3 linked regions of the Homo sapiens genome follow. The protein of the gene in region 1 interacts with the protein of each later gene in a pairwise test. Each region holds a gene or a part of one and is shown on either strand. Other genes may lie near its edges.

What was found. Proteins that work in one complex are often made in the same cells at the same time.
Region 2: the proteins of KLHL38 (region 1) and TEPSIN interact in binary tests that used the Homo sapiens proteins (3 or more experiments, as listed by UniProt).
Region 3: the proteins of KLHL38 (region 1) and TRIM42 interact in binary tests that used the Homo sapiens proteins (3 or more experiments, as listed by UniProt).

What each region holds. Positions count from the first base shown.
Region 1 is NC_000008.11:123,650,779-123,658,710, forward strand, and holds the start of KLHL38 (kelch-like protein 38), read right to left. Parts: upstream 3,024-7,932; 5' UTR 2,808-3,023; intron 2,634-2,807; exon of another isoform or gene 2,150-2,633; 5' UTR 2,149-2,149; coding exon 799-2,148; intron 1-798.
Region 2 is NC_000017.11:81,229,048-81,236,071, reverse strand, and holds part of TEPSIN (AP-4 complex accessory subunit tepsin), read left to right. Parts: intron 1-788; exon of another isoform or gene 789-2,023; coding exon 2,024-2,091; exon of another isoform or gene 2,092-2,133; intron 2,134-2,355; coding exon 2,356-2,434; intron 2,435-2,470; exon of another isoform or gene 2,471-2,568; coding exon 2,569-2,640; intron 2,641-3,553; coding exon 3,554-3,757; intron 3,758-3,862; exon of another isoform or gene 3,863-4,050; coding exon 4,051-4,225; intron 4,226-4,380; coding exon 4,381-4,494; intron 4,495-4,595; coding exon 4,596-4,674; intron 4,675-5,393; coding exon 5,394-5,528; intron 5,529-5,831; exon of another isoform or gene 5,832-6,070; intron 6,071-6,144; exon of another isoform or gene 6,145-6,334; intron 6,335-6,595; coding exon 6,596-7,024. UniProt on the Homo sapiens protein: Associates with the adapter-like complex 4 (AP-4) and may therefore play a role in vesicular trafficking of proteins at the trans-Golgi network.
Region 3 is NC_000003.12:140,695,048-140,701,658, forward strand, and holds the end of TRIM42 (tripartite motif-containing protein 42), read left to right. Parts: intron 1-5,368; coding exon of another isoform or gene 5,369-5,467; exon of another isoform or gene 5,468-5,695; intron 5,696-5,840; coding exon 5,841-5,927; 3' UTR 5,928-6,103; downstream 6,104-6,611.

The DNA.
Region 1 (7,932 bases):
TGGGGACTTTTGTAAACCATACATTTTAGGATCTCACACAAAGATATTTTGATTCAGTGATGTGAGGTCAGGTTCCAGGGGATTTGGTCACAGAGGTGTGGACCAAGGCTTGGGAATCTTCTTTTAAGGCCTTACTGACTTGAGTTAGAAGCACCTGCCAAATTCCTATGGGACTTCACTATCTGACTTTCAATATGCTGTATAATAACTTGAATTTTTAGATATATATTTTTCTCATCAAATGAAGATAAACTCTGTGCATAGGGATGGTATTTGATATCCTTTGTTATGTATTATTTTTGCACAAAAAAATTCATAAATTGAAAAATATCTTGCTGAAAATCCTTCTTCCCTCCCTCCCTTCCTCTCTTCCTTCCTTGCAAATAACAAGTGTTGGTATGTGTGTACATGGGTGCACATGTGTGTGCATGTATGCATGTACGTATTTGTGTTCGTGCATATGTATAAATGTGTGCATGCATGTGTAGATATATGTAAATGTGTGTATGCATGCATGAATTGTATATGTGTATGCATGTGCACACGTATGCATGTTGGCATCTGCATATATGTGTGCATATGTGTATGCATGTATGCATGAATATACATTTCTGCATATATGTGTGCACGCATGTATGCATATGTGTGTTTGTGTATATGTGTGCATATATATATTTATGTGCATATATGTGTTTTTTGGTGTGTATGTATACATGTGCATGTGTGTGCAAGCAGGTGTGGGTGTGTCCAAGCACACATACTCATGCAGTTACGTGATGGGAAGAACCGGCCATTTACCTGGATAAGGCGCACAGGGTTCTGCATGATGTCCTCTCCTCCAAAGAGATAGAGTCTTTGGTCTTTCACAGCGACTGCGGGGTGGAGCACCCCCACGGGCATGCTGGCCATACTCTCCCAGACATTGCAGATGCTGTCATACCTTTCCATGGAGCCCATGAGCTCCTGCCCTTCTCCAATCCCCCCGATGGAGAAGATGAAGTTCTTATGGGCAGTGCTTCTGTGGGAGTAGCGGGCCACCAGCATGGGCTCCCCCAGCCTCCACTGATTGAGTTTCAGGGAGAAGATGTAGACATTGTGACTGACCAGACTCCTCCCTGAGCTGACAGCCATGCCCCCCAGCACATAGATGCTGCGGTGCAAGGTGATGGCAGAGGCCTTGTACAGCCGTGTCGGGAGTTTGGCAAGGCTCTGCCATTGGCCGGTCTGTTTGCTGTACAGTAGGACGTCCCTGGTGGTCTGCTGGCTGTCCTTCCTTCCGCCCAAGAGGATGAGGAAATCTTGGTAAGAGTTTCTTGGAGGGACATGCAACAGGAGTTTGCAGTCTGGGACGGTGGTGCCACACAAAGAGAACATCTGTCTCTTGGCGGTCTCCAAGATGATCTGGCATGCAGGCGAGGACTGCAGGAGGGCATCGTTGGCGATGAAGTGGTGAAAGAAGGCTGGGTGGATGTACTGCAGCCTGACCTGCTTGAACAGTTCCTGCATGTATCGCTTCCGGGCCTGGAGGTCATGCTTGATCCAAACCATGAGGGCCTCAAACACCTTTTCCTCCTCCCCACAGAGCCCATCATCTCCGAGATAGTCCCTCAACTCCAAGGCACAGAGCTCCTTCAGGTCGGCCGATGCGGCCACCTCTGGGAAGGACGTCAGTGCCACCTCCCTGGCTTTCTTCTTGAGGGTCTCGCAGCTTAAGATTTCTGAGAGTCTGATCATACCCAGGCAGTTGCTGGGGGCCAACTGGCTCTGCAAGTACGAGGAGCAGGCCTCAAACAGCTTGGGGAACTGTAGCATGGAGGCGGCCTCCATCACGGGGAGGACATTGTCAGTGGCAATATGTGCCTCCCCCGTATACACGTAGGAGACGATCTGGTCCAGGGTTGGGGGGTCAATGCCTTTCAGCTGCACTTTGGCTTCACTCTTCTCCCGGAAGCTGCTGCAGAACATAGCCCTGAAGTAGGGGCTGCTGGAGGCCAGCACGTTGCGGTGGCAGGGGATCTCCCGGGCACCGGCACAGATGCTCACATCAGTCAGGATCCTGCTTTGCCTTAAGCTGTTGAGCTGCCTCAACAAGTCAGAAGAGAAGTCGTGGTCTTTGAAGAGCAGCCCATCTAGTGACTCCTCGTCCATCCTACAAAGAGGGAAGGAAGCCCCCAGAGTCAGCAAGAGTCAAACCTTTCTCAGCTGCATGTGCTGGAGGGTTCAGCTGTGGGGACTCCAAGACCAGTGCTCCTATTCCATTCCCCATGATGTTTGCGGATGTCACCATGGATATTGTGTAGGGAAGATTGGAAAGGAAGGCCACATACATCTCAGACCTGAGCCCTTTTGGGTTATGGTTATTTTCAAAAGTAATAGGCAAATAGTATCTTCAGCTAATCTGAGAGAAACAACCAAACAAACAAACTAAAGTTGTTGGAAGTTACTCTGTTATCAGAAGCTGAAATGTTAGTCTGAAGCAAGATAACAGTCCATGGATTTGACCAGCAGAAGTTCATGAGCCTTTTTCCAGATCGATGGCATATCTGTTATTGAGTAACAGATGTCTAAACCTCTCTTTCTGGGTGTCAATCATTCCCCAAGGATGATATTCTGGAGGTGTGGCCCTCTGGTCACTGGACAGAAATGAGGGAAGAAAATGGACCTTTGATGCATATATTTAAATATGACTTCATTGAGTCTTGTTTTAAAGATAGAATAAATAAAAGGAAAGACCAAACAATCCCCTGGTTTATTGGATGACACCTGGTTTTCTACTTGCAGAAGAAATAAGTATGAGGGACACTTACCTTGTTTTGCTGCGGTGACATCCACTGGTGCCTGGTCTGACTTATCCCCCCGGAGAGTTTCTACCTCTAGCTCCAAGGGAAACCATAAACCCCAGGCCTTTCTTTCAGTTGGCAAATGATTTGTCCTGGGAGATTTCTGGATTTGTTTATGCTGAAGGCACTTTCATAGTTTTCTAGAGCTTTGTGCAAGGACTGCTGGGCAGGGAGACAGTGTATACATTCCAGGGCTAAGAATAGTTGCATATGTACTTTCCACTGTTATGACATGTGACTTTCCAGTTGCCTTTTGCAGCAACCCGAGGGCCTGCAGGGCCGGCGCATGCCCACATGCCTCGTTTCCTTGGCAAGTGTTTACATCGGCAAAAATAGATCGGGAGGAGCGGCTTCTCTTAGAGAAGACTTTGCTGTCTGCTTGGAACCATCCCGAGTCCCCTGTCCTAAAAGTGCTTGGGAATTCTAGCCGTCTGTAAACAGGTTGCTGTGACCTGTGGAGAGTCACTGAAGATGGTTCTGGGCCACAGTGGAGGTGGCAGGTGGTCACAAGGGAAGCCGGAACATGAGCCTGTGGGTGCTATTCAATGGATCTCTATTTCCCACCATCTGCCTGGCGGGATCGCTGGGGAGAGCTGTGATTTCCTCCTCCAGGATCCTAGGTGATGAAATCCATGACAAAAGTTGTTGTTTTTTGTTGTTGTTGTTGTTGAGCATCCCAGGGTTTCCAGACTCCTGAAGGCCCAAACCTTTGTCAGGTCTCCTTACTCAGGAACCTCTGATTGACAGTGGTAAGGCCGAGCTCCTCCTGTCGCGTCTGCCTCTCCCAGACACGTGCTGATTGCTCTTCAGCTGGCTTTTTATAGTTCAGACTTCCTTTTCTGTCTTACTTTTCCATTTTGTCTTGTCTGGCAGCTTGAGCTAGAGGCAGGAGGCAAGGCATATTGCTTTAGGGAGAGAGAGAAAGAAGATGAAGGAGGATGAGGAGGAAGAAGAAGCAGGGACAGAGGGAGGGAGAGAGACGAGAGGAGGAAGAAGAGGAGGAGGAATAGGAGGAGGAGGAAAAGAAGCAGGAGGTAGAGAATCGGGGGAGGAATGATGATAGTGATGTGGTAGGAGGCAGCTTTCAATAACAATCAGAATCACGAGAGAGAGTGAGGGGGACCTCAGGTCTGTTCTGCCCCTGCCTTCAGGGAGGTCCATGATTGTCTTAGCCACAAAAGGCAGGGAAGCCTGACTTTGTCTCCTACTCAACGTCTTGCTCAACTAGTGCAATGGTCTTCCATGCATTTTTTTTTCTTTGCTCCTAGTACTTCTCTCTCCAATACATCCACCCTGTCTTCTCTGGAGCAGCCCCTGGGAAGGCAACTCAGAATTTGCCAGTCCCCAGCATCAGGCCCTTCAGTGGCTCCCCATGTCTGCAGGACTCCTTAGCCAGAATCGGACTGGTGTCCTGTCTGCTTCTGGAACCATGTCTACTGCCACTCATGTGTGGTAATCTAGCTCCATGAGACACTTACAGATCCTTGTATGCATCTGGTCACTGTTGGGGAAGCTGGGCTGGCCTGGCCTTTGGGACACCACAGGGCAGGGTGGAAGGAAGAGGGTTTCTCATTCACAGTTGCCGATCGTAGAGTGGATTATGCCCAAAAGAGTCCAGAAGGTCAAGGCCAGGGAAATGGATCCAAAACATGTTACTGGGGCCATGGGCCTGGAGGCCAGAATTAGGAGCAGGAGGCCTAAGCTAAGGGGGTCAGAGACCCATGGAGGCACAAGCAGGGAGCAGGTGAGAGGAGCTGTTCCTCCATATGTCCGAGTTGGTGAGCTGTGCTGGTGACATAATAAGTGAGTAGCCACATTCCTGAAAGAGCCCAGGGATCCTCTGATTCGTACTCTATCCCTTTCTATGAGCTCTTCCCCTCTGCTCACTCTATCATTTTCACTGTTTCTGTTCGTCTTCCAAAACTTGGTTTATGTATCACTTCTCTGCAAGTCTTTTTACCCCTCTCTAAGACACTTAACTTCACACTCCTCTGTGCAGTTTCCATTCTTCTACATGCCTCTAATGGCATGCCTCATACCTCACTGAGATTATGTTTACTTCCCTGTGTCTCTCTTATTAGAGTGGAAGTCTCTGGGCAGCAGGAATCTTGACTTCATTGTAGCTCTACTCCTAGCACCCAGCACAGGGCCTGGCTTATAGGGGGTGAATTTCATACACTTCCTGCATTGAGCTGGAACAGAATGGGGAATGGGGAAAGAGAGGGAGCTTTGCTGGGTGGACTTCACACCACTGTCTGCTGTGCCGGTTTTGCAGAGCTGCCATGTATGGCTTACTGCGTAGACTGCCCTGCAAATATGCTCTGGAGCAGCCCTGATTATCCACATAATCAAATCCAATAATGTGATGAAGTGAAAAGTAAAACACTTGTTTTATACTGCAGTGCAAGACTTAAGTTCAGGCTGGGAACTGAACTGAGGTCCTCCCAACGCCAAAGCTAGCATTCTTGTCCTTGACCTCGGAGTGAACATGAGGAAGAAATAACTTCCTTAATGCTCTGAAACACCTGCATGATTTCTCTTCCAGGCAGCAAGCAAGCCAAGGATTTATTCTGAGGGTAATAGGTAGGGGATCCTAGGAGTGAATTAACACAGCACCGTTCCCTGGGAAGGATGTTGGATTTTCCCCTACATCCCCTTACTAATTAAACTTTCTGGAATCCAGCTCTGTCAATTGTTCAGATAGACCTTGGTGTGCAGCATCAATGTCTGACCAACTTTACTAAATCTTTTGGTTTCTAATGTTTAGAAAAAATAGGCCCTGTTTTGTTGGCCTGGCCTACCAGGAGGATCCTGGTTCTAGGTCAGATGTCAAATGTCAAGACACAGAGTCTTAGTGTTCAACATGGCAAACACACACATATAAGCCCAAGCTTGACCCCAAAAAGCATCTCTACCACCCACATGTAGCCCAACCAGCCCATTCATGAGTTGACTTCTCTCAGGGAGGTTTATACTTTTTGTCTTAACTTTCATCTAGAAGATGTCTTAGTCTAGGGCCTGAACATATGGCAACCTAAAAGAAATGACATCAATGAGGACATTCAGCTCATTGTTTCTCCTTTTTTTGTTTCTTCTGAGACAGGGTCTCACTCTGTGGCCCAGGCTGGAGTGCAGTGGCATGATTATGGCTCACTGTAGCCTCCAACTCCGAGGCTCGAGTGATCCTCCCACCTCAGCCTCCTGAGAAGCTGAGACTAAAGGCATGAGCCACCACATCCATCTATTTTTTGTGTTTTTTGTAGAGACAGGGTTTTGCTATGTTGCCCAGGCTGGTCTTGAACTGCTGGGCCCAAGAGATTCACCCACCTTGGCCTCCCAAAGTGCTGGGATTACAGGCATGAATCACGGCCCTCCTTTTGATGAAAGTCAGTATCATAACAAGTCAAGGCCTGAACTTTGGGGGCAGAAGGGCTGGGGATAATCTTGGCATTTCCCCTCAGTATTCATGTGGTCTTGGGTAAGTTATTTATACTCCTCCAGCCTCAGTTTCTCCATCTGTTAAGTGGGGATAACCATCCTTGTCACAGTGAAATAATGTATGTGCAGTATGCAGTAAAGTGCCTGGCACAGTGTATATTCATAGTAAAGTATGGTCAGTATGATATTATTACTCTAAAATTAATCTCATTAGATTCCAATGGGTCTTGGTGCCTGGTTTTCAGTGTCTCAATTGGTCCCCTGTGCATTCTAGCATTTTCCTTTTCCTTGAGCAATTGCTGTGTTCCTCATGATCTACTTAGCCTCCAGGAGTCCTGGCATTCAGTCTGGGCTCTGCTATCGACTAGCTGTGCATCTTTGGATGAGTCAATTAACCTCTCTGCACTTATTTCCTCACCTGGCCCTTCTAGATCACCTTCCTGTGGTTTGTACCCTGAGGTGTTCTCTGCAATCTGTGGCCTAGAACAGGGACTGGGAGAAACTGAGACTGAGGGATGAGGGCTCTTCAGAGCTTCCTCACGGCTCTCGCCTGAAGCCAAGTGCAGAGAAGAAACCTAAGTCGAGCTCCCAGCAGGTGCCCTTGATGAGTTTGCCCTTGTAAGTCAATCCAGAAAGCCTTCATTTTCCCTCCTGGAGTTTTGGATTGCCATGGTGGGCACTTTGACTCAGGAGGCCTTGGTTTCTTTCCTATCTGGGTGTGCGGGGTCTGGGTCCCCAAGGAAAGGGCAGGCTGGCTCCTGTCAGCAGCAGGTTTGACAACAACAGCTGGGAAGCCACAAAACACTCTCTGCCACAACCCTACCCTCAGTCCTCTCAACCCACTCGGGGCCGTGCTCCCCATCTGCTCCTTCCAGGAGAAGTCCCCTCACTCTAATTAGGAACCATAGCTATGGTGATTGCTGTGTTTCAAGGATGGACAAACATGCACATAAAGGCCCCTGTGGTGCTGCGGTCTCTCTGGAAGGCTGTCCCCTGCTAGCATCAGAGAATCTCCTGTTCTTACAGGTGGAGAGAAACATGAGGAGCAGACAGGTAAGGTTGCAATTAACTGAATCATTATAAGCTGTAGGAAGAAACCTGGGTCTTGATATAAGATTTTAAATGTTTTTAAGTATACGTGAGAGCCTGTCTATCTGTGTCTGTGTCTATCTGGCTGGGTGTGTTTTTTCAGCAGCCCGTGGAAAGCGGAACAAGGACTTTGTACTCCAGACAAAGGCAGAAAGGGGGCCTGATCCATGAGTCCAGGGGTTGCCATGACGACCGTCCTCCAGAAGCAAAAATTTTAAGGCTACTCCGACTAGGCCAGTAGTGCAAATGTCTGCATTCCCAACTCTTCCTCCACCCTGCTCCATCACCAGAAAATATCTTCATATTTTTTTCCCCTGGGGAGAATAAGGGGAAAAAAAGGACAACACAGATGACGTCAGGATGGCTAGCAGATTGTTGGTATAACCCGGCTGTCTGCCCCCCTCTTTCTTCCTGCAAACTAAAGTCTGACCTCATCCATCATTTATGCCACAGATCAGCTTTCTGGGCTTTCAAACTGGGAAGAAAGAAAGAACAGGACCAAGGATGCTTTCTTACTCTCCTGTTTCAGCACTGTGAGTCACAAAGAATAATACACTGTCTTGGC
Region 2 (7,024 bases), on another chromosome or scaffold:
CTCCAGGTGGTCACTGGGCGCACCATGTCTGGACCCCACCCCAGCCCCTGAGTGGGGAATTCTGGGGAGGGAGACTGAGTCTGTCTCGTGCCACTGCTTGCTTGTGGAGACCTCAGGGTGTACCATCCACTGGGCTCACCCCAAAACCGGTGTCGAAACCAGTGTTGTCCCACTTTATGGCAAGTGGGCATGCAGCTCTAGGTGTTCCGCAGGGGCCAGTGCCCTGGGCCGCCATAGACAGTTGTGACACATGACTTAGGCAGTAGATGCCCCTGAGGGGACGGCAGTGCGGGGGTGCTCTCGCCATCCTCACAGAGCTCCTCACAGCTTTGGGGCCAAGGCAGCACCAGCCATTTATCCTCACCATTCAGCGGGCCAGAGGGCCCCGGGCTCCAGGCCACTCCCGTGGCTGTGGTTGGTGCATGTACGTCGTGGCCTCAGTGGTCTCGGGGACACGCCCTGGGGTGGGGGCTGCAGCAGGTAGGGGGATGGGGCACAGCAGGACCTGAGGATGGGAAAGGCTCTTCTTCAGACCCTGGGTTCTTGTCGGCACCAGAGTCTCTCCTGTGCAGAGGCAGCTATGGATGATGGCTGTTGCCTGCCGTGCCTGGACACTGGCCCTGGGTGACACACAGGCTGTGGGAGGTGTCAGGACAGGCCCTGTGAGGAAAGTGGGTGCCAGATGCCACACGTGAGAGACGGGGCGCCCTGCTCCAGGTGGTGGGTGTGCAGTGAGGATGGCCTGCCCCACGCGCGCAGAGCGTCAGAAAGAGGAAAGAAAACGCAGCTGGCAGTTACAGACAGATTTTCTTTAGTTAAAACCTGAGAGGCACCCCCAGCCGATTGCGGTCAGGAGCACTTTATCTTACAGACTGAATGTTGGTTTTAGGATGAGAGGGCTTATCAGAAGCTCGGAATGTTTATGTGTGTGGAGAAGTTTATGGCAGGGTTGGAAGGAGGGAAGGTTATCTTGGGGCAGGCATCTTTTCAGCCTGGAGGTGGGTTTTCTCGAAGCTGGCATCTTCCCGGCTGGAGAAGGGTTATCTTGGGGCTAGCATGTCTCTGGTTGGGGAGGAGTTTGGAATGTTTCTGGTTGGAGATGTTATTTGTGGTTCATGGTCGTGCTGACCTTAGCCATTAGGCTGATGCCCTATGGATTTAGGCAGTTTTTGGTTAAGGTGAACTTTAGAATGAGGGGCTTGTCCAAGATGGTGATGCTCCTGCTCTGTCACAGAGCAGGGGCAGCGTGGGGTGGCAGGTGGGTGCCCTGGGCTCCTGCAGGGAAGATGGCAGCCTCAGGGTGTCAGTTCATCCAGCCATTGACTCAGCTTGTGGCCGCCAGCCCTGGGCCCAGGGACAGCCAGGAGCATCGTCTCCGAATCACGGGACCAGCCTGCCAGGGTGGAGGTAGACGGCCGAGGGGCGTGAGTGGATTCGCCTGTGACAGAGGCTCTCGAGGGGTTCTCAGAGGCACAGCTCTCAGCCTGAGCCCTGAAAGGATGCCGCGGCCCCAGGTGTAGGCTTGGGGGGCCCTGGGGCCGGAAGATTTAAGGAAAGAAGCCCCAGTTCATCATGACAGGAACTCTCAGAGCAGGGGAGCTCGAGGCGGCTGAGACTGGGGTTGGGTGGGGCTAGGTGGAGCTTTCAGGCTGTGATAAGAACGCTGGTTTCTCCCTCCAGGCCCCGGAAGCCTCTGAGGGGTCCCTGGTGCACCTGGGGCAGGGAGAGTGGGCTTCGGGGAGGCCACACCCGCTCAGGCACCAGGGGTTGCCGACCCTGGGGGAGACGAGGTGGTTGCTGTGGAGAGAGTCTCGCCTCTGTGGGGCATGGGTGAGGGGGAGCTGAGGGTCTGCTCAGGTGTGGCCTCTGCAGGGTCCTGGAGGAGGGCATCCCATTGGCTGTGACAGAAGGGCCTTGGTGGCAGGAACTTGCCACCCTGGAGTGGGCCCAGGGCACCGTGCTCCACAGGGAGCAGCGGTGCCAGGCTCAGCCCTGCCCCCGACTTGCCTTTTCTGTTCTGCAGCTTTTGCAGGGCCCCCAGATCCTCTGCACGGGAACAGCTTGTACCAGAAGGTTCGCGCGGCCGCGCAGGTGAGCCCAGGAGCAGTGTCGCTCTGCGGGGTGCCCCTCCTCCTGTAGAGGGGTGGGATTGGGGCCAGGATGTCAGCTGGGGGGTTTGCAGTTCTCCCATCCGGGACCCCTGCCTCTGCTCCTTGCTGGTGGACACAGAGCCTGTGTCCAGCTGAGTGGCTCAGGAGAAGTGTCCGGGGGACAGAACGGAGCTGATATGGGTGGCAGGGTGAGTACAGCAGGCCCTGGTGTGAGGACACTGAGGGCCTTCGCCTCCCCCTGTAGGACTTGGGGAGCACCCTGTTCTCGGACACCGTGTTGCCGCTGGCTCCCTCCCAGCCTCTGGGGACCCCGCCTGCCACAGGTAGGTGACTGAGGGGACCGTGTCCAGCTCTGGCACCTGGTTTCTGCCTCCTTGAGTGTCCTGGGTGTCTGTGCCATCCGTGGGCAGGGCCGAGGGTGGGGGCCGGCTTGCTGCTAACGGAGGACCCTCTGCAGGCATGGGCTCCCAGGCCAGGCCGCACAGCACCCTCCAGGGTTTCGGCTACAGCAAGGAACACGGCCGCACGGGTGAGTGGGGAGGGCCTGCATGGGCTCTGGCATCTCAGGGTGTGGGGATGAGGAGGTGGTGGGGGCCGGACCATGCCGCCCCATCTAGTAGCTGCTGTCCCCCGTCCCCTCCCCTACATGGCCTCAACCCTTCCTGGGGCTGTCCCCACTGTCTCTCTCTGGCTGCTGACGTGGGGGTGGGGCAGGTGTGGCCAGGGCTGCTTTATGGACAGATGAGAGAAACCAGGCCGAGCAAGAAGTCAGGGCTGGGCCCCGTGGCAGGGGTGAGTCCCACTCTGAGAGGGGCCGAGGGCTGTGCCCCTGGCTGTGGTGCAGGTGACTCAGGCAGTCCCGTGTGGAGCTGTTATGAGGTGGGGCAGTACCAGTGGACAACTGCTCACCAGCGCCAGGAGAGCCACAGGTGGCACCACTGCCTGCGGCTGGGACCCAGCCCCCAGCCCAGCTGTGCCCTGCTGCCGGGCCCTGGGCGGTGTGTAGCTGCTCACCGTTAGGCTGTGTCACGCCGTCCTGCGCACAGCCTGGGGCTCCTGCCGACACTTTGGTGTCGGGGCAGCTTCTACAGGGAACTCACACAGGAAAGGCCGGCCCCTCCCCGAGCCCTGGACACACCCTCCCTGAGCCAAGGCCAAGCCCAAGCCCCTTAGGACACCTTCACCCCCAGAGGACAGAGGGACGGAGGCATAACTCTGCAGTGAGCTTTGGTGTCCAGGCCCACTGGGAGTGGGAATGCCAAAGCGGAGTCCACTGGGAGCTTCCAGAGGGCCTGGGGCCCACCAGGAGGCCTCCCTACCTGCAGCATGTACCCCGACCTCTCCAAGCTTGAGCAGGGAGCCGATGCGGGCACCCTGCTCCCAGAGAACGCGGGTGGGGGCCGCACTGGGCGGCCGTCCCATCTCCCTCTCCTCGGGTACAGGCTCGGCAGGCGAAGCCTTCCTCTCCACCATCCAGAAGGCCGCAGAGGTGGTGGCCAGCGCCATGCGCCCCGGGCCCGAGAGTCCCAGTACCCGGAGGCTCCTGCCGCGGGGTGACACCTACCAGCCTGCCATGATGCCTTCAGCCAGCCACGGTCCCCCAACCCTGGGGAACCTACTCCCCGGGGCCATTCCAGGTCCCCGAGGTATCGAGGCGAGGGCTCCTCCCCTTGGGGTCTGGGTCACTCCTTCCTGTCACCGCTGGGGCTTTGCGGCCACGGAGGCAAATCCCAGGGCCTCCCACACAGCAGGAGGGGTGGGACCCGCGGCGGAAGCACATGCCCATGGGGCTGGTGTTTGCTGAAGCTGGAGCCAAGGTGGCCACCCATCCTCAGCTCAGGACTCAGCCCCCGAGGCCTCCTGGTCCAGGGCCCCGGGAGGTGGGCATGGGGCTGGCCTGAAGCCCCAGGGATCTCACCGGCTGTCCTGTTTCCTCCAGCTGTGAGGCATCAGCCTGGGCAGGCCGGAGGGGGCTGGGATGAGCTGGACAGCGGCCCCAGCTCTCAGAATTCCTCCCAGAACAGCGACCTGAGCAGGGTCTCGGACTCGGGCAGTCATTCCGGCAGCGACAGCCATTCAGGGGCCAGCCGGGAGCCGGGTGACCTGGCAGAAAGGTGAGCGGGAGCTGCCAGATATGTGGGAGAGGTCTCGGAGGCACCACACTGTCCCCCTCCCAGCGCGGCTCCTGCTCTCCAGGTTCTCCCCCATGCGAGACAGGAGTGGGGGCATGGCCTCCACTCACCCTTGACCCGGCCATTCCCCCTGGCAGGGTCGAGGTGGTGGCCCTGAGTGACTGTCAGCAGGAGTTGAGCTTGGTGAGGACTGTGACTCGGGGACCACGCGCCTTCCTGAGCCGCGAGGAGGCACAGCACTTCATCAAAGCGTGAGTGCGCCCGGACCCGCCCTGCTCTGCCTCAGCCCCAACCGTGGGCGAGGGAGGAGGGAACGGGCCGCACCCGCCACCCAGGTGTCCCCTCTGTGCAGGTGTGGACTGCTCAACTGTGAGGCCGTGCTGCAGCTGCTGACCTGCCACCTGCGTGGGACCAGTGAATGCACGCAGCTGGTGAGCTGCACACGCGGGCGGGAGGGCGTGACTGTGTGCATGTGCCTGTGTGCGTGTGTGTGCGTGTGCGTGTGTGTGCACGTGTGCCTGTGTGCACACCTGTGTGTGAACATTCCTCTGTGTGGCTGTGCGTGCGCACATGCCTGTGTGTGTGCGTGTGGGTGTGTATGCCTGTGTATGTATGCCTGTGTGTGTACACACTCGTGCATGTGTGCGGTGTGTACACACTTGTGCACGTGTGTGGTATGCACACATCTGTGTGTGTGTGTACATGACTGCATGTGTGTGGTTGTGTATGTATGTGCCTGTGTGTGTGTGCATGCACATGAAAGTGTGGACACGTGTGTGCGTGTGTCGGGGGGCGTGCGGAGGAATGAAGGTAAGGCAATCGGGGCAGCAGGTCACGTGCTTCTCGCTGGGGTCTGTCCAGGAGCCGGGGAGGACATGGCTCTGGTGTCCGGGAGCTGGGGTGTAAGGCGGTGAAGACAGGGCTCTGGTGTCTGGGAGCGGGGGTGTAAGGTGGTGAGGACAGGGCTGTGGTGTCTGGGATCCGGGGTGTAAGGCGGTGAGGACAGGGCTGTGGTGGAGCTGTCTCTGGGGCCTCCTGGCACTCCAGTCATTGATGAGGAGGAAGAAGAGGGAGAGAGATGGCCAAATAGGCCTCCCTGGCGTGGACCTGCTGCCCCATGGGTGCTGATGTCCCCTCCCTTCACCCGCAGAGGGCGCTGTGTGCCATCGCCTCCCTGGGGAGCAGCGACCTCCTCCCCCAGGAGCACATCCTCCTCCGCACCCGGCCGTGGCTGCAGGAGCTCAGCATGGGCAGCCCGGGACCTGTGACCAACAAGGCCACCAAGGTGGGCAGCTGCGGAGGCCACACGCACACCGGGGTCCAAGGGTACAGTGGGAGATACGCTGCAGTCCACGGCCACCCCGTCCCTGCCCGGCGCCTGGTCAGCCCTTCCCGGACCCCCTCTCAAGTCCCTGTCCCGCTGGCAGAGGGAGCAGCAGCAAGTCAGGGTCCTCACCTCCCCATTGCCTTCCCGCCTTCCACCCAAACTCTGCAGCACTCACAGTACACTGGCCTCTACCTATTCCTGGAAGCCCCCAGACTCCGCTGCCTTAATGTTCCTGCCCTTGTGTCTTGGCCTCACACTTACCTCTTCCAGGAAGCCCTCCCTGACTGCACATGCAGTTTGCCACCCATGACACAGCTCATGCTCAACTCCCAAGCTCCGGAGGGCAGAAATGGTTCCATTCATCTCTGTGCACTTGAACACTCTGAACTGCCTGGCGGCCACTGGAATCACACGGGGAGGCCTCTCCCGGCCGCCAGGCCCTGGCACCTTCCCTCTGCCTGTGGGCATTCCCAGCTTCTTTCTTCCTGTTTTCTCCCTGGCTGCTGGAAACACAGGTCCTCAGTCACCCATCCCCAAGTCATCCTTAACTGTCATTGGCCATCTGCTAGCTCACCTTTCAGTCAGAGCGACGAGTGAGCCTGGGGTTCGCACCACCGCAGGCGAACCTCATAGTGGGGTTTCTAAAACGGGCATGCTGGAAGAACCCTGCGTCCAACAGTTGGAAATGCCCAGATGTGCCAGGCCACGTGTTCACTCCCTCCGGCAGTGCCTGGCGGGTTATGACGGGGAGGGTGTCCATTTGTCTAGTAGTGAGTAAAGGAGCAAGATTCGAGGTGTGTATGTGACACCTGCCCCGTGTCGCCAGCACCAGCCCAGCAGCTGCTCTCGGTGGGATGACAACTGGGTGCACTGCCCCAGCCCCTCCCAGCAGCCGGTGTCCTGCCCAGAGGTGGCCCTGCCCTCTGGGTGGAGGGACTGAGGAGGTCCTAGGGAGAAGCGGGCCCTGGTCCCCACATTTCCCAGGGTTGCATAGGAACCTCCCTGGTTCCTCCTTCCTCTTTCAGATCCTGAGGCACTTTGAGGCCTCCTGTGGGCAGCTGTCCCCTGCCCGGGGCACCTCAGCTGAGCCTGGCCCCACAGCCGCCCTCCCAGGCCCATCTGACCTGCTGACCGACGCTGTGCCTCTCCCTGGGAGCCAGGTCTTCCTGCAGCCTCTGAGTTCAACCCCGGTCTCGTCCCGGAGCCCTGCTCCCTCATCTGGGATGCCGTCCAGCCCTGTGCCCACCCCACCCCCAGATGCCTCCCCCATTCCAGCCCCCGGAGACCCCAGCGAGGCCGAGGCCAGACTGGCAGAAAGCAGGCGGTGGAGACCTGAACGGATCCCAGGGGGCACGGACAGCCCAAAGAGAGGCCCCAGCAGCTGTGCGTGGAGCCGCGACTCCTTGTTTGCTGGCATGGAGCTGGTGGCCTGTCCCCGCCTGGTGGGGGCTGGG
Region 3 (6,611 bases), on another chromosome or scaffold:
CAGACTGGGCAACATGGCAAAATCCTGTCTCTACTAAAAATTAAAAAAAAGTCAGCTGGGTGTGGTGGTGTGCGCTTGTCATCCCAGCTACTTGGGAGGCTGAGGCACGAGACTCGCTTAAGTCTGGGAGGCAGAGGTTGCAGTGGGCCAAGATCAAGCCACTGCACTCCAGCCTGGGTGACAGAGTGAGACTCCATGTCAAAAAAATAAAAAAAGACCAGCTGACTAGCAACCTTAATTCCCCTTTGCTATGTGTGTAACCTAACATATTCAAAGGTTCTGGGATTGGGACATGGACATCTCTGGGGTCCATTATTCTGTCTACCACAATCTGTAAAGTGGATGTCCTAGGTTACATCAGACTTGGAGGTAAAAATTCAAGCCCAACAATAGTTACAAATTGGTAATTTTCTGGGTCTTTCCCTGTTAGCTCTTCAGGAAATGCAGCAACCCCTGTCCCCAACCATCCTCTCAAAGCCCTTCTCAGTCTGCACTGAGAGTCATCCTCGGTGTCTGATGGGGCTGAGGAAGTAGTCCTGCCAGCTGCCCTGAGTCTCTGCAGTGCTGCTGTCTTCCTATTCGGCCTGTGCTCCTGCTGAAACCCCAGCCACACAGCAGGACTGCCTGGCCATCATGAAATTCCCTTCCTGATTTTTCCTCTTCCTGCTGCAGACTCTCAGGCTGAGCCACACACCTTCAAAGATTAGGGTTGGAGCCACACACTTTCAAAGGTTAGGGTTGGAGGTCATTCAATCTGAATGACCACCACTATTTCACACTCAAAATAACTACCCCAAGCCTACCCCACAGCCACCCACACACTCACAGTGACTCCGTGCCCTAAAATGAAACCAAGATGGTTTGCATTCTTTATCTCCTTAGGATTTATTCTTTTCTAAAGAGCTCGTGACCTTTCATGTAAGCAGAACCCTGTTGGTCCTTCCTTTGCTTGCCCTGTAGATAGGCTTGAATCCTGGAACAAGTATAATTTCGGATCATGCTGGACCTGATTTCTTTTTAACCTCATGTACAGAGGTCTGAATTAATTATACACCTCAGTCATGGTCCATCATTAGCACTGATCTATACAAAGCCCTATTCTTATTTATATATTCCCTTTTGTGACATCCATTCTAATATGTTTTATGTGTATCTTTTTGTTTTTATGTGTTCTTCCATGATTTGCATTGTTGTTTTCAATGTGTTATTAATTTACACAATTAGCATTGTGTTACATATCTTACTTTGTTTCTTACCTTTTTTTCTTAAATGCTGTGTTTTTATGATCCATCTATGTTGTTATGGGCATTTTGTCTTTTACTCCTGATAACACCTGATCTTTCAGAATGTGCATTTGTTCACCACATGTTACCTGTCTATTTCAGGCAGGATGGACACCCAGGTGACCTCCAATAATACTGCAGTGAACAGCCTTATATATGTCACCTTATGGACACCATAGGTGTGTAAGCGTTCTCTGGGTTATTGATTAGTTTGCTAAGGCTTCCATAAGAAAATGCCACAGACTGGGTGGCTTAAACAGAAATTAGTTTTTGCACAGTTCTTGAGGCTGGAAGTCTGCAATCAAAATGTTGGCAGGGTTGGTTTCTCCTGAGACCTCTCTCCTTGGTTTACAGATGGTCACCTTCTCACTGTCTCCTCACATAGTCCTTCCTTTGTGCACATGCATTGTGATACCTCTCTGTGTTTAAATTTCCTCTTCTTATAAAGACACCGGTTAGGTTGGATTAGGGTCCTCATTTTAATTAAATCACCTCTTCAAAGGCCCTATCTCCAAATATAATCACACTCTAAGTACTGGGGGTTAGGGCTTTGACATATAAATTTGGGGTCAGGTGCAATTCGCCCCATATTAGATACATATGAGTGAAATTTCTAGGCCATTGACATGTGGGTACTTAATTTGACCACATCCATGTACACTTCCATAAGGAATAGATTAGAGCCACTATACCCTAAGCCCCACCTACATTTAGCAAGATCCAGTTTTCTATTATTTTGCTAGCCCAATAGGCATAAAATGATATGTCCTTATTATTTTAAATTTCATTTTATATTTTTGTTAGTTTTCAGGATTTCTTCTTCTGTAAAGAACCTGTTGATATCCTTCGCCCATTTTTCTATTGCATTTTTCTTTTTCTAGGTGATTTGCAGGATGTCCTTATATATTCTAGGTAATGGTTTTAGACATTGGTATTATCTTCTCTTCTGACATTTGCCTATCAGCTTTGTTCATAGTGTACTTCATAAAATAGCAGAAATACTTAATTTTGATATAATCAAAATCATCAATTATTTTTTCTTTATAGCTTAACCTTTTGAAGTTTTATTTAAAAAGTCTTTTCTTAGGATTAGATCACAAAGATAACCTTCTATATATTCTTTTATTAAATTTACAGTTTCACCTTTCAAATTTAGCTCTTTAATCCATCCAGACTCTGCCTTTGTATGTATCAAATGTATGTATGTACTCTGCCTATGTAGTCCTAGGTAGGGATGTTCTTTTTCACCATGTAGTGAACCAGTTTTCCCAATACCATCTACCAAGAAATATCTATTATTCATATTTATACAATGGAAATGCCACTTTTGGTTTTTTTGTTTATTTGTTTGTTTATTTTTTGTTTTGTTTTGAGACGGAGTCTCGCTCTGTCGCCCAGGCTGGAGTGCAGTGGCGCGATCTCGGCTCACTGCAAGCTCCGCCTCCTGGGTTCACGCCATTCTCCTGCCTCAGCCTCCCTAGTAGCTGGGACTACAGGCGCCCGCCACCACGCCCGGCTAAATTTTTGTATTTTTAGTAGACACGGGATTTCACCGTGTTAGCCAGTATGGTCTCTATCTCCTGACCTCGTGATCTGCCGGCCTCAGCCTCCCAAAGTGCTGGGATTACAGGCATGAGCCACCGCGCCTGGCCAGAAATGCCACTTTTATATTCAGTTTCCATATATTTAGGGGTATGTCTCTGAGGACTCTATTACATGCCATGGGTCTATATTTCTGCTCTTATATCAATACCATACTTGTTTTATTATTTTTGAACCTCAGCTTTCTGCCATGTCTTTATGAACTGCTACGGTAAGTATGCCCATTATCCTTCTTTCTTTTTCAGAAATTATTTAGCTAATCATAGAAATTTATTTCTTCATATACATTTTGGAGTAACTTGAATTCTTAGAAAACATTCAGATAGAATTTATTCAGAAGGCATTGTGTTTCTAAATTAATTTGGAAACAAATGGTATTTTTGTAATATGTTTGAACATTTACTCAAACCATAGTCTATGTTCTTTACTGGGGTGTTTAAGTTTTCCTACATAGGTGCACATATTCCTGGTTAAACTAGATCATTTAGAGATCTAACGTACAGCATGAGGGCTACAGTTAATAATATTGTATTGATAGAAAATTTGTTAAGATTTTAGGTGTTCTTTTCACACACACAAAAAAAGATAACTGTGAGATGGTGGGTATGCTAATTTGCCTGCCTGTAGTAATTATTTTACTTTGTATACATATGTCAAAACATCATGTTGCATACCATAAATAAATAAACCAAATAGTTTACAGACTGTTGATATTATGAAAGTTATTTTATTATATTTTCTAATAGATTACTGGTTTAGAATAAAGACTATTTCTGTTTGTAGGGTAATCTTGATTCCAGCAATGTCAGAAACTCTCCTTACTATTCTGAGACCCAATCTGCTATTTCTGCTTGTTTTCCCAGGCATATGATCCTATCTCCTATAAAGAATGATGGTTTTATCTGTTTACTTACAATTCTCACAATTCTATTTCTTTTTTCTTTCCTTATGGCTTTGGCCAGAACCTTGAGTCATACATAAAATTGTGGCAGTGTTAGTAGATATCCTTGTCTTATTCCTGATATTAACGTTTCTCCATTGAGTTATTTTTTATTTAGTTTTTATGGTATATAATCCTTATTAAGTTAAGGAAAATTACTTCTAGGTTTCTGAGAAATAGGTACTTATTAAATTTTTTGCATTATTTGAGGTAATTACATGATTTTTCTCCTTCAGGCCATTATTAATGAAGTGAATTACATTGACTGATTTTTCTGATACTAAATTCCACTTCCATTCATGGAATAAATCCTGTGTGTTCATGATGTATTACTTTTTAATACAGTTTACTTCAGTTAGCTCGTATTTTATTTTGGTTTATTGCATCTATAATTATAAGGGAATTGGGCTCAATTTTTTGCTTATATTGTTTTTATCTGGTTCTGGAATCAATATTTCACAACCTTCATAAAAAGAGCTGGGAAACTTTTTGCTCTTCTATTTTCTAGAATAACTCTTAAGAGTTTGGTAGAATTCATCTGGAAAGCAATATGAGCCTGGGGCATTTGGGGCAGGGAAGAGATGTCAACTATCATTTCAATTTCTTTAATATTCCAAGTTTTGTTTTTCTGTTTCTTCTGTCCTTCTTTCTACCTGATTCCCTTTTTTCATAGACACACCTCAATCCTCACTGCTCCATTCACATATCACATACAGTCTTTATCTTTGAAGATTCTGACTATATTTTAAAGCAAAAACTCAATCTCCTATTTATGAGTTAATTCCTAACACCTCGTAACACCGTTCCATCTTCCTCATGCCCTCTGATAACTCTGTGTGTATCTTGGACATTATTTATACTACTTTTATCAGGGTTATCTCTATGCATTATTTCCATTTCTACTCAGCAATGGATAATCTAATATCATGTATATAATATGACCTTTGCCTTGCATGCAGCCCTGTCTTCTCTAAAACCAAAAATTTTGTAAAAGTAGAGAGCATAATGCTAATAAGGGTCTGGCTTCTTTGTTTTTGCCCTTTCCCTTTATATACAAATATAGAAGGTTAAAAGCTTTGTACATAGAGACTTTGTGCCCTGTATAAACATTCCTCTTCACCATACAAACCCCACCCCCATTCTATCTCAAGTCCTCATTCACCTCAGCAGAGCCCATTGATCCAGTGGACTGTCTTTCATCCCTGGGTCTCGACCTCACTCCATAAATATTTATTTGGGGGGAAGGAATGGGAATGCTGCCAGACCACAGTAGTGAAGAAACCCAGTATCTTCAAGGTAAGGCATGGAGGGCAACATCTAAGCTAACTTGGTGAGATTTCTAGGAGGGTTCTTCTTACCCCTCGTGCCCAGTACAGTCTTTCTTTTTCAGGTAGCACTGGCCATTCACTGTAATTAAAGATAGTATGAAGTGTTTCTGCTAGCATCAAAGGAAAACAACTGGCAGATTTACAAATTATATTATATTATAGTTCTATTCACTGTTCATATACTTCTCTAAGAATCTTCTCTTTTCCATAACTAGTGTTGGGACCACAGAGATGAAAGACTATCATTTCCCCCACACCCCAATCAAGGTGCTCATGGTCTGGTAAGAAAGTCAAATGCATTAGCTGAAACTTAACAACTGATAAAAGCTGTGACAGAACCAAGTTCTAATGGCTGAGGAAGGATACAGAGGATCCTCTATGGTGAAGCTCACCTGCGGTCCAGCCCCATCACTGTCATCAGCACTTAGTCACATGAGCTACCCTAAAGGGAAGTAGGATCTGGCCTATGGAATCACAATCCCAGGACACTATAGCTGTGGGGCTTTGGGAAACCTTCCTGGTCCTTCTGAGCCTCAGCTTCTTCATCTATAAAGTGGCACCAACAGCCACTGTGGTGGTCGTGAGGAGTTAATGAAATGATGTGTGTAGTGTCTGACATGCAGAAGGGCCCAGGCTACTGGGAGCTGTTGTCTATTGGGTGTCATGACTCTTCGCTTCTGATTGCAGGTGGTAACACCAGATGGACATGGGAAGAACCGAGCTAAGTGGGGCCTGCTGAAGAATATCCAGTCTGCCCTCCAGAAGCACTTCTGAGCCCCTTCAGAGCAGGAAACAACCTCAGACTCATCACAAAGTAGACATATACACACACATATATGTATGTATATTTTTCTCACCACATTCTTCAAGGAGGTTGTAGACAAATGTTTCCATGACCTCTCAGCTTTCCAACAGGAATCTTGTAAGAGCTAATAAAAGGAAATACCTGACATGGCTTGCTGTTTGTTCAATGACAACTATTTGTTATGATGACAGTAATAAGCAAGGCACTCAGCAAGTCTGTATATTTCCAGCTGCTCAGGTCTAGTCCTAGGCTCAGAATTCTGTGGTGTTTTGTAGGAGCAACACCCAGCTTCTAGGTGGTAAAAAGAACACTGTATTTTGCAGTCGGGACCCCGTAGGTGTGCATTCTAATGCTGGCCTAACTAGCTTTGAATGCTTGGGCAAGTCGCTGATTGCCACGGAATTCATTACCTCACCATGTAGTCTATTTTAAGGAGCCAACATTAAAATGTTTTTCCTAATTATTGAACTTGAATTTGCCTTTTCACAACTTTCAGCCCATGGTCTGAGGTCTACCTCTAAGCCATAAAGAATGAGAGCCCTCCCTCTTCTCCTTCTGGACATAGCAAAGGAAGAACGGTAGAATGCCTGGTTAGAGGATCCTCTATGGTCATTTGAAGCAAGGCATGGAAGAATGACAAAATCATGTATCAG